2 linked regions of the Homo sapiens genome follow. The protein of the gene in region 1 purifies or fractionates together with the protein of each later gene. This does not show direct contact. Each region holds a gene or a part of one and is shown in the gene's direction. Other genes may lie near its edges.

Region 1 (3,500 bases):
TTGAACACTCCAAGAGTCTCATAACTTGCTTTATTATATTTATTTATTTATTTTTTGAGACAAAGTCTTGCTCTGTCACCCAGGCTGGAGCGCAATGGTGCTATCTCGGCTCACTGGAACCTCCGCCTACCAAGTTCAAGCGATTCTCTTGCCTCAGCCTCCTGAGTAACTGGGACTACAGGCGCGTGCCCCCATGCCCGGCTAATTTTTGTATTTTTAGTAGAGACGGGGTTTCACCGTGTTACCCAGGTTATCTCAATCTCCTGACTTTGTGATCTGCCTGCCTCGGCCTCCCAAAGTGCTGGGATTACAGGCATGAGCCACCATGCCTGGCCTAACTTGCTTTATTTATTTATTTATTTATTTTTTATTGAATTTTTTTTTTTTTTTTGAGATGGAGTTTCACTCTCCTTGTCCAGGCTGGAATGCAATGTGCGATCTCTGCTCATTGCACCCTCTGCCTCCTGGGTTCAAGCAATTCTCCTGCCTCAGCCTCCCAAGTAGCCGAGATTACAGGTGCCCGCCAGCACGCCTGGCTAATTTTTGTATTTTAGTAGAGACGGGGTTTCACTATGTTGGTCAGGCTGGTCTCGAACTCCTGACCTCAGGTGATCCACCTGCCTCGGCCTCCCAAAGTTCTCGGATTACAGGTTTGAGCCACCGCGCCCGGCCTATTTATTTATTTTTGAGACAGGATCTTGCTCTGTCACCCAGGCTGGAGTGCAGTGGTGTAATCCTGGCTCACTGCAGCCTCCACCTTCCGGGCTCAAGTGATCCTCCCACCTCAGCCTCCCAAGTAACTGGGACCATAGGCTTGTGTCACCATGCCTGGCTAATTTTTTGCATTTTTAGTAGAGACAGGGTCTCACTGTGTTGCCCAGGCTGGTCTCGAACTCCTGAGCTCAAGCCATCTGCCCACCTCGGCCTCCCAAAGTGCTGGGATTACAGACATAGCCACCATGCCTGGTCTCATAACTTGCTTTAGAGCATACCAAGTGGCTGTAGTTTTGCTTTTTTCCAACTTATCAATAGGATGGAAGCATGTATAAAAATGGGACTAATTTATCAGAACTTTTTATTGATTTGGACACAACTAGAGAATGGGACCTTATATCCACCAGACTGGAAGTGGGTTCAAGAGATTAAAGCTCAGCCAGGCACGGTGGCTCACACCTGTAATCCCAGCACTTTGGGAGGCTGAGGCGGGCAGATCACAAGGTCAGGAGATCCAGACCATCCTGGCTAACACAGTGAAACCCCGTCTCTACTAAAAATACGAAAAAATTAGCTGGGCGTGGTGGCGGGTGCCTGTAGTCCCAGCTACTCGGGAGGCTGAGGCAGGAGAATGGCGTGAACCCGGGAGGCAGAGCTTGCAGTGAGCCGAGATTGCGCCACTGCCCTCCAGCCTGGGTGACAGAACGATACTCCGTCTCCAAAAAAAAAAAAAAAAAAAAAAAAAGAGATTAAAACTCATGAAGAAGTGGGATTTGGATATACTTTATTTTATTTGTATTTATTTATTTATTTATTTATTTTGAGATAGAGTCTTGCTCTGTTGCCCAGGCTGGAGTGCAGTGGTGTGATCTTGGCTCACTGCAACCTCTACCTCCTGGGTTCAAGCAACTCTCCTGTTTCAGCCTCTCAAGTAGCTGGGACTACAAGTGCAGGCCACCATGCTCGGCTAATTTTTTTTGTTGTTTTGTATTTTTAGTAGAGACAGAGTTTCACCATGTTGGCCAGGCTGGTCACGAACTCCTGACCTCAAGTGATCCGCCCGCCTTGGCCTCCCAAAGTGCTGGGATTACAGGCGTGAGCCACTGCACCTGGCCCTGGGTATACTTAAGATTGACGTGCTCCTCTGGAGTATATCCAGGAAAGTGTGAAGGAGAGGAAAAAAAAAAAACTAGGCTGACATAAAGCAGTGCTAATTGAATAGTTGGATAAGAATCTCCTGAGAGAACAGAATGTGCAGGAAGATACTGGAGTCAGGACCTTGGTCCACAGCAGCAGGAGACCCTGATGTGGAAGATGGTACAACTTGATCAGAGTGGAAGATGGTACAACTTGATCAGAGTGAAAGACTGGAGATTAGGTTGGAATTCTCCAGAAGGCCAGATTTTGGATAGAATGTTGTCATGACAATTTACCAAGGTCGGAGAAGATTGGGTTGGAGTGTTCCAAGAATGCTGGATTGGAATGTTGTGCTGGGAGGAGCTAACGGACTGGAATGTCCCATCAGAGCCGACAAAGACCTGAGAAGGGTGGTTTTCCAGCATTTCTTCTCAGAGCCAGCCCCGGGGTTTGGGAAAGGGGCTTTAGAGGTCACTGAGGGATATGAGGGACTGGAGGAAGTGATAAGCAGGCCAGGCAGGCTCCAGTCTCCCAGCGAAGCAAGGTAGGTCCAGTTTGCTCTGTCCTCCCTGTTTGGTCGCCATGTGAATTTGCCTTGAAGGAGAAGCAAGGGTTCTGGTGCTGAGTCAGCCAGTCCTTGCATTAGAGGGTGCCCCATCTTTGGGATATGTGGAAGCTCAGGAACCTGGTTCTGAGGAGGAGCCAAGCCTGGGGTTTGTTCCCAACTGGTGGTTCTCTGCCCTCTCTGCCCCCAGCTGCCTGTGTCAGGGAATCTGCTTGATGTGTACAGTAGTCAAGGCGTGGCCACACCAGCCATCACTGTCAGCAACTCCTGCCCAGCTGAGCTGCCCAACATCAAACGGGAGATCTCTGGTAGGTGATAGGGTCTTGGCCCCATGGCCCTACACTTTACCCCAGGTGAGCCCTGTGCCTACCAGGTCTAGAGATGGGCCTGATTCTGAGGGGAATGGTTTGGACATATGGAAATGGAGGCTGTTTGTCCCCTTTCCCCCTATGGCTTGTGGTCTTGCTTTCACCCCACTTCAGTTCCTCTCGTCTTGGATTTAACAACCAGCCTATCACCATGGCTTAAAATAGTAAAAAGAAGGCACTTTTTAAAAAAGGCATTTCCCCTGCTTTTGGCTACCAAACCCTACCTTAGTATCTGCATGTGTTTCTTGCCTTCCTGTGCTCAGAGGCCCTGATCACTCCACTCTTTTCCAGAGACCGAGGCAAAGGCCCTTTTGAAGGAACGGCAGAAGAAAGACAATCACAACCTAAGTAAGCCAGAGAGCGTGTGCATTGCCCGGGTGCTGTGCAGGCCTGCCTCACCCCGAGTCCTGGCCCCCCATGGGGAACTCCTTCCCTGCAACAGCCTCCCAACTCCCTACTTTCTGTCTCTTCCATTTTTGGCTAATTGACAACTCTTTCTCCCACTCTTTCTTCCTCTCCTCCCCTCTCCAAAGTTGAGCGTCGCAGGCGATTCAACATTAACGACAGGATCAAGGAACTGGGCACTCTCATCCCTAAGTCCAGTGACCCGTGAGTCTGGGCTGGGACCCTCAGGCCAGCGGGAGGTGGGGCAGGCGTCCCATGCTACTAAAATTGTGCCTTGGTGGGCTCACCAGGCAGTCTCGGCCCAGGCATTT
Region 2 (3,500 bases), on another chromosome or scaffold:
CCATCTCAAAAAAAAAAAAGCTGGTCAGGCTTCTCCCTAACATCAGCTTCCTCTGTGTTCACGCTGCCTTGCTTTCGAGGCCTCTTCTCGTGGCTTCCCCAGTGTTCTGATTCTGCCTTCCCTTCTTACAGGCATGGAAGTTGTAAAGGTTGGAGGTCCCGTCTACAGGATTGGAGTTGGAGGTGGAGCTGCTTCATCTGTGCAGGTGAGTGGGAATTGCTAAAGGTGCAGAATCCTTGATATAACCGGGCCCCAGGCATAGGGGAGCGTATAGGAGCTTCCAGTCTCGCTGAGCTGAGCTATGCCATATATGCCCCCAGGTGCAGGGAGATAACACCAGTGACCTGGACTTTGGGGCTGTGCAGCGAGGAGACCCGGAGATGGAACAGAAGATGAACCGTGTGATCAGGGCTTGTGTGGAGGCCCCCAAGGGAAACCCCATCTGCAGCCTTCATGATCAGGGCGCTGGTGGCAATGGTGAGGAAAGGAGTTGGAACAAGAGACTGGGCCTGCCTGGTATCCTGCCAGGTTTCGTTTAGGGAGAGGTATCAGGAATCTCCAACCAACCACCCAGCTCTGGGTCCCATTCTCCATGCTCTGTACATTCTAGACAGGTTCAGGGTTGGAAGGGTGGAAGCCTGCTGCCGTGGGATGATTGGTGGTAAGGGTGCGGCAGCAGTTGACACAGGAACACACCAAATTACAGGCCCCTTTGGAGGCCAGGGACTGCCCTTTGTTGCCTGACCACCACTAGGTCACTGCTTCTCCTTGCAACCCTCTCACCAGGCAATGTCCTAAAAGAGCTGAGTGACCCAGCTGGAGCCATCATTTACACCAGCCGCTTCCAGGTGGGTCTCGTCCCCTGAAGTGTGACATTTTCCCACCCCTGCCAGCCCCAGCCCGCTTCCACCCATCTCTCTTGCAACAACATGAGACGTGGGAGTGCCCACTGGCCCTTCTCTTTCCTCCCCGCCGTGGCTGTGCAGCTTGGGGACCCAACCCTGAATGCCCTGGAAATCTGGGGGGCTGAGTACCAGGAATCAAATGCTCTTCTGCTGAGGTCCCCCAACCGGGACTTCCTGACTCATGTCAGTGCCCGTGAACGTTGCCCGGCTTGCTTCGTGGGCACCATCACTGGAGACCGGAGAGTGAGTTGGCCCAGGGAGTTGGGAGCAAACACTGGGGCAGACATGAGCCACCTGGGTATGGGCTAGAGGGAGAGCTGTCAAGGGAGAGAGACGAGAGGAAGATGGGAGGTAGTGGCAAACAAGCTGTGGGGAATGTTGGATCCAAGGAGGGGCAGGGACTCAATATGGAAACCAAACAAGGAGTGGAAAGCACATTTGTGCCCTGATTTCTAGGAACATTCCTTGCTGGTGTTCATAGTCTCATCCCCTCTGGGTGGGGTCCCTGTGGTCTATAGATAGTGCTGGTGGACGATCGGGAGTGTCCTGTCAGAAGAAATGGCCAGGGGGATGCCCCCCCGACACCCCTGCCAACCCCTGTGGACCTGGAGCTCGAATGGGTGCTGGGCAAGATGCCTCGGAAGGTATGTGGGGTTGAGGGGATGGGTTTTTCCTGTGGTCCTCTCCACACCACCCTTTACCCTACGTGCACTTTGTCGCCTGTGTGCCCAGCCCGCCCCAGGTGTTCACACTGCCTGTCGCTGTCTGTGTTGCAGGAGTTCTTCCTGCAGAGGAAGCCCCCCATGCTGCAGCCTCTGGCCTTGCCCCCAGGGCTGAGCGTGCACCAGGCTCTGGAGAGGGTTCTGAGGCTGCCCGCCGTGGCCAGCAAGCGCTACCTCACCAATAAGGTCCTCCCTGCACCCTTCCTCTGCCCCCTGCCTCCTTCCTCCGCTCAGCCTCTTCTGCCCTCCCACCCTTAGAAAGTGCTGTGGGGGTTTTTGCCTGGCCCTGCAGGAAGCAGCAGGGGCAGGGCAGCCACCCTGATGGCCTGGTCTCCCTGCTACCCACCTTCTAAGTAGAGCTGTTGTCTGCATTGGGGGAAAGACAGGCCTCCCACTGCCCTGAGTGCCTTGGGGGCATGTGCGGGAGCTCAGGCTGTCCCTGTCCCTTGCTCTCTTGCTAACCCCACCTGGTTCCACAGGTGGACCGCTCTGTGGGAGGCCTGGTGGCCCAGCAGCAGTGCGTGGGGCCCCTGCAAACTCCTCTGGCAGATGTAGCGGTTGTGGCACTGAGCCATGAGGAGCTCATAGGGGCTGCCACAGCCTTGGGAGAACAGCCAGTCAAGAGCCTGCTGGACCCAAAAGTCGCCGCCCGGCTGGCCGTGGCCGAAGCCCTCACCAACCTGGTGTTTGCTCTGGTCACTGACCTCCGGGTGAGTTCTCCCACAGCTTCTATCCTGGAGCCCCCGGGCTTCAGGACCCTTCCACATCCATCTGTAGCCCTTCATTTCATGTTGCAACCTCCCAGTCCGCCTGCACCCCTGGCCTCTCCACATTTCTCTTCCCCTCTAATGCTGTGCCTCTGCCACCCCCAGGATGTGAAGTGTAGCGGGAACTGGATGTGGGCAGCCAAGCTCCCAGGGGAGGGCGCAGCTTTGGCGGATGCCTGTGAGGCTATGGTGGCAGTGATGGCAGCCCTGGGTGTGGCAGTGGATGGTGGCAAGGACTCCCTCAGCATGGCTGCTCGGGTTGGCACTGAGACCGTGCGGGCTCCTGGTGAGGTGTGGGAGCCCCAGGGAGGGGAGGAGGAACTATGGAGCTGGGTTGGCAACTCATTCCTTTGGACTCCTCCTTGCTCTACAGGGTCACTGGTCATCTCAGCCTATGCCGTCTGCCCAGACATCACAGCCACTGTGACCCCAGACCTCAAGCATCCTGAAGGGAGAGGTATGGACATGGCCCCATCCTTTGTGATCTTTGCTTGTGTGATCTTTGTTTGGCTCCTGCTTTGTGAGTGCTGGGCCCCCATCTCAACACTGGGCTGTGGTGTTTTCTGGGACTGATTGTCTAGGTGTCTCACCACATGCTGGGAATAGCAGTGCTGTGAGCCCCTCAGGGATGGGTCCTCCTGAGCTGTTCCCCTCCCCTCACCCCTCCCCGTCTCCCCAGGCCATCTGCTCTATGTGGCTCTGAGCCCTGGGCAGCACCGGCTCGGGGGCACAGCTCTGGCCCAGTGCTTCTCCCAGCTTGGGGAACACCCTCCAGACCTGGACCTTCCTGAGAACTTGGTGCGGGCCTTCAGCATCACTCAGGGGCTGCTGAAAGGTGAGTGAAGACCCCTGGGGAGATAGCGCACAGGGTGCCAGGCGTGCAGCAGGCGTTCACCATCTGAGCAGTGGGGCAAAAGGGACTCCAATGGACGATGTACCCCAGATCCCCTGACATTCTGACACACACTCTTGATGGACTGACTCCGGAAGGTGGGGTGGGGCTGTCAGGTTTGGGTCCCGAGGTTGCTGAGCTTTCTTCTCCTTCCTCCAGACCGCCTCCTCTGCTCAGGCCACGATGTCAGTGACGGAGGCCTCGTCACATGCCT

Evidence for each region. The genes of interacting proteins can lie anywhere in the genome.
Region 2: the proteins of TFE3 (region 1) and PFAS purify together in Homo sapiens (affinity purification with mass spectrometry; one large-scale study listed by BioGRID and IntAct). This does not show direct contact.

Annotation. Positions count from the first base shown.
Region 1 is NC_000023.11:49,033,358-49,036,857, reverse strand, and holds part of TFE3 (transcription factor E3), read left to right. Parts: intron 1-83; exon of another isoform or gene 84-2,395; intron 2,396-2,606; coding exon 2,607-2,724; intron 2,725-3,075; coding exon 3,076-3,132; intron 3,133-3,317; coding exon 3,318-3,393; intron 3,394-3,500. UniProt on the Homo sapiens protein: Transcription factor that acts as a master regulator of lysosomal biogenesis and immune response.
Region 2 is NC_000017.11:8,262,789-8,266,288, forward strand, and holds part of PFAS (phosphoribosylformylglycinamidine synthase), read left to right. Parts: intron 1-131; coding exon 132-205; intron 206-320; coding exon 321-477; intron 478-786; coding exon 787-848; intron 849-986; coding exon 987-1,148; intron 1,149-1,423; coding exon 1,424-1,549; intron 1,550-1,681; coding exon 1,682-1,813; intron 1,814-2,106; coding exon 2,107-2,337; intron 2,338-2,499; coding exon 2,500-2,680; intron 2,681-2,767; coding exon 2,768-2,851; intron 2,852-3,073; coding exon 3,074-3,229; intron 3,230-3,445; coding exon 3,446-3,500. UniProt on the Homo sapiens protein: Phosphoribosylformylglycinamidine synthase involved in the purines biosynthetic pathway. Catalyzes the ATP-dependent conversion of formylglycinamide ribonucleotide (FGAR) and glutamine to yield formylglycinamidine ribonucleotide (FGAM) and glutamate.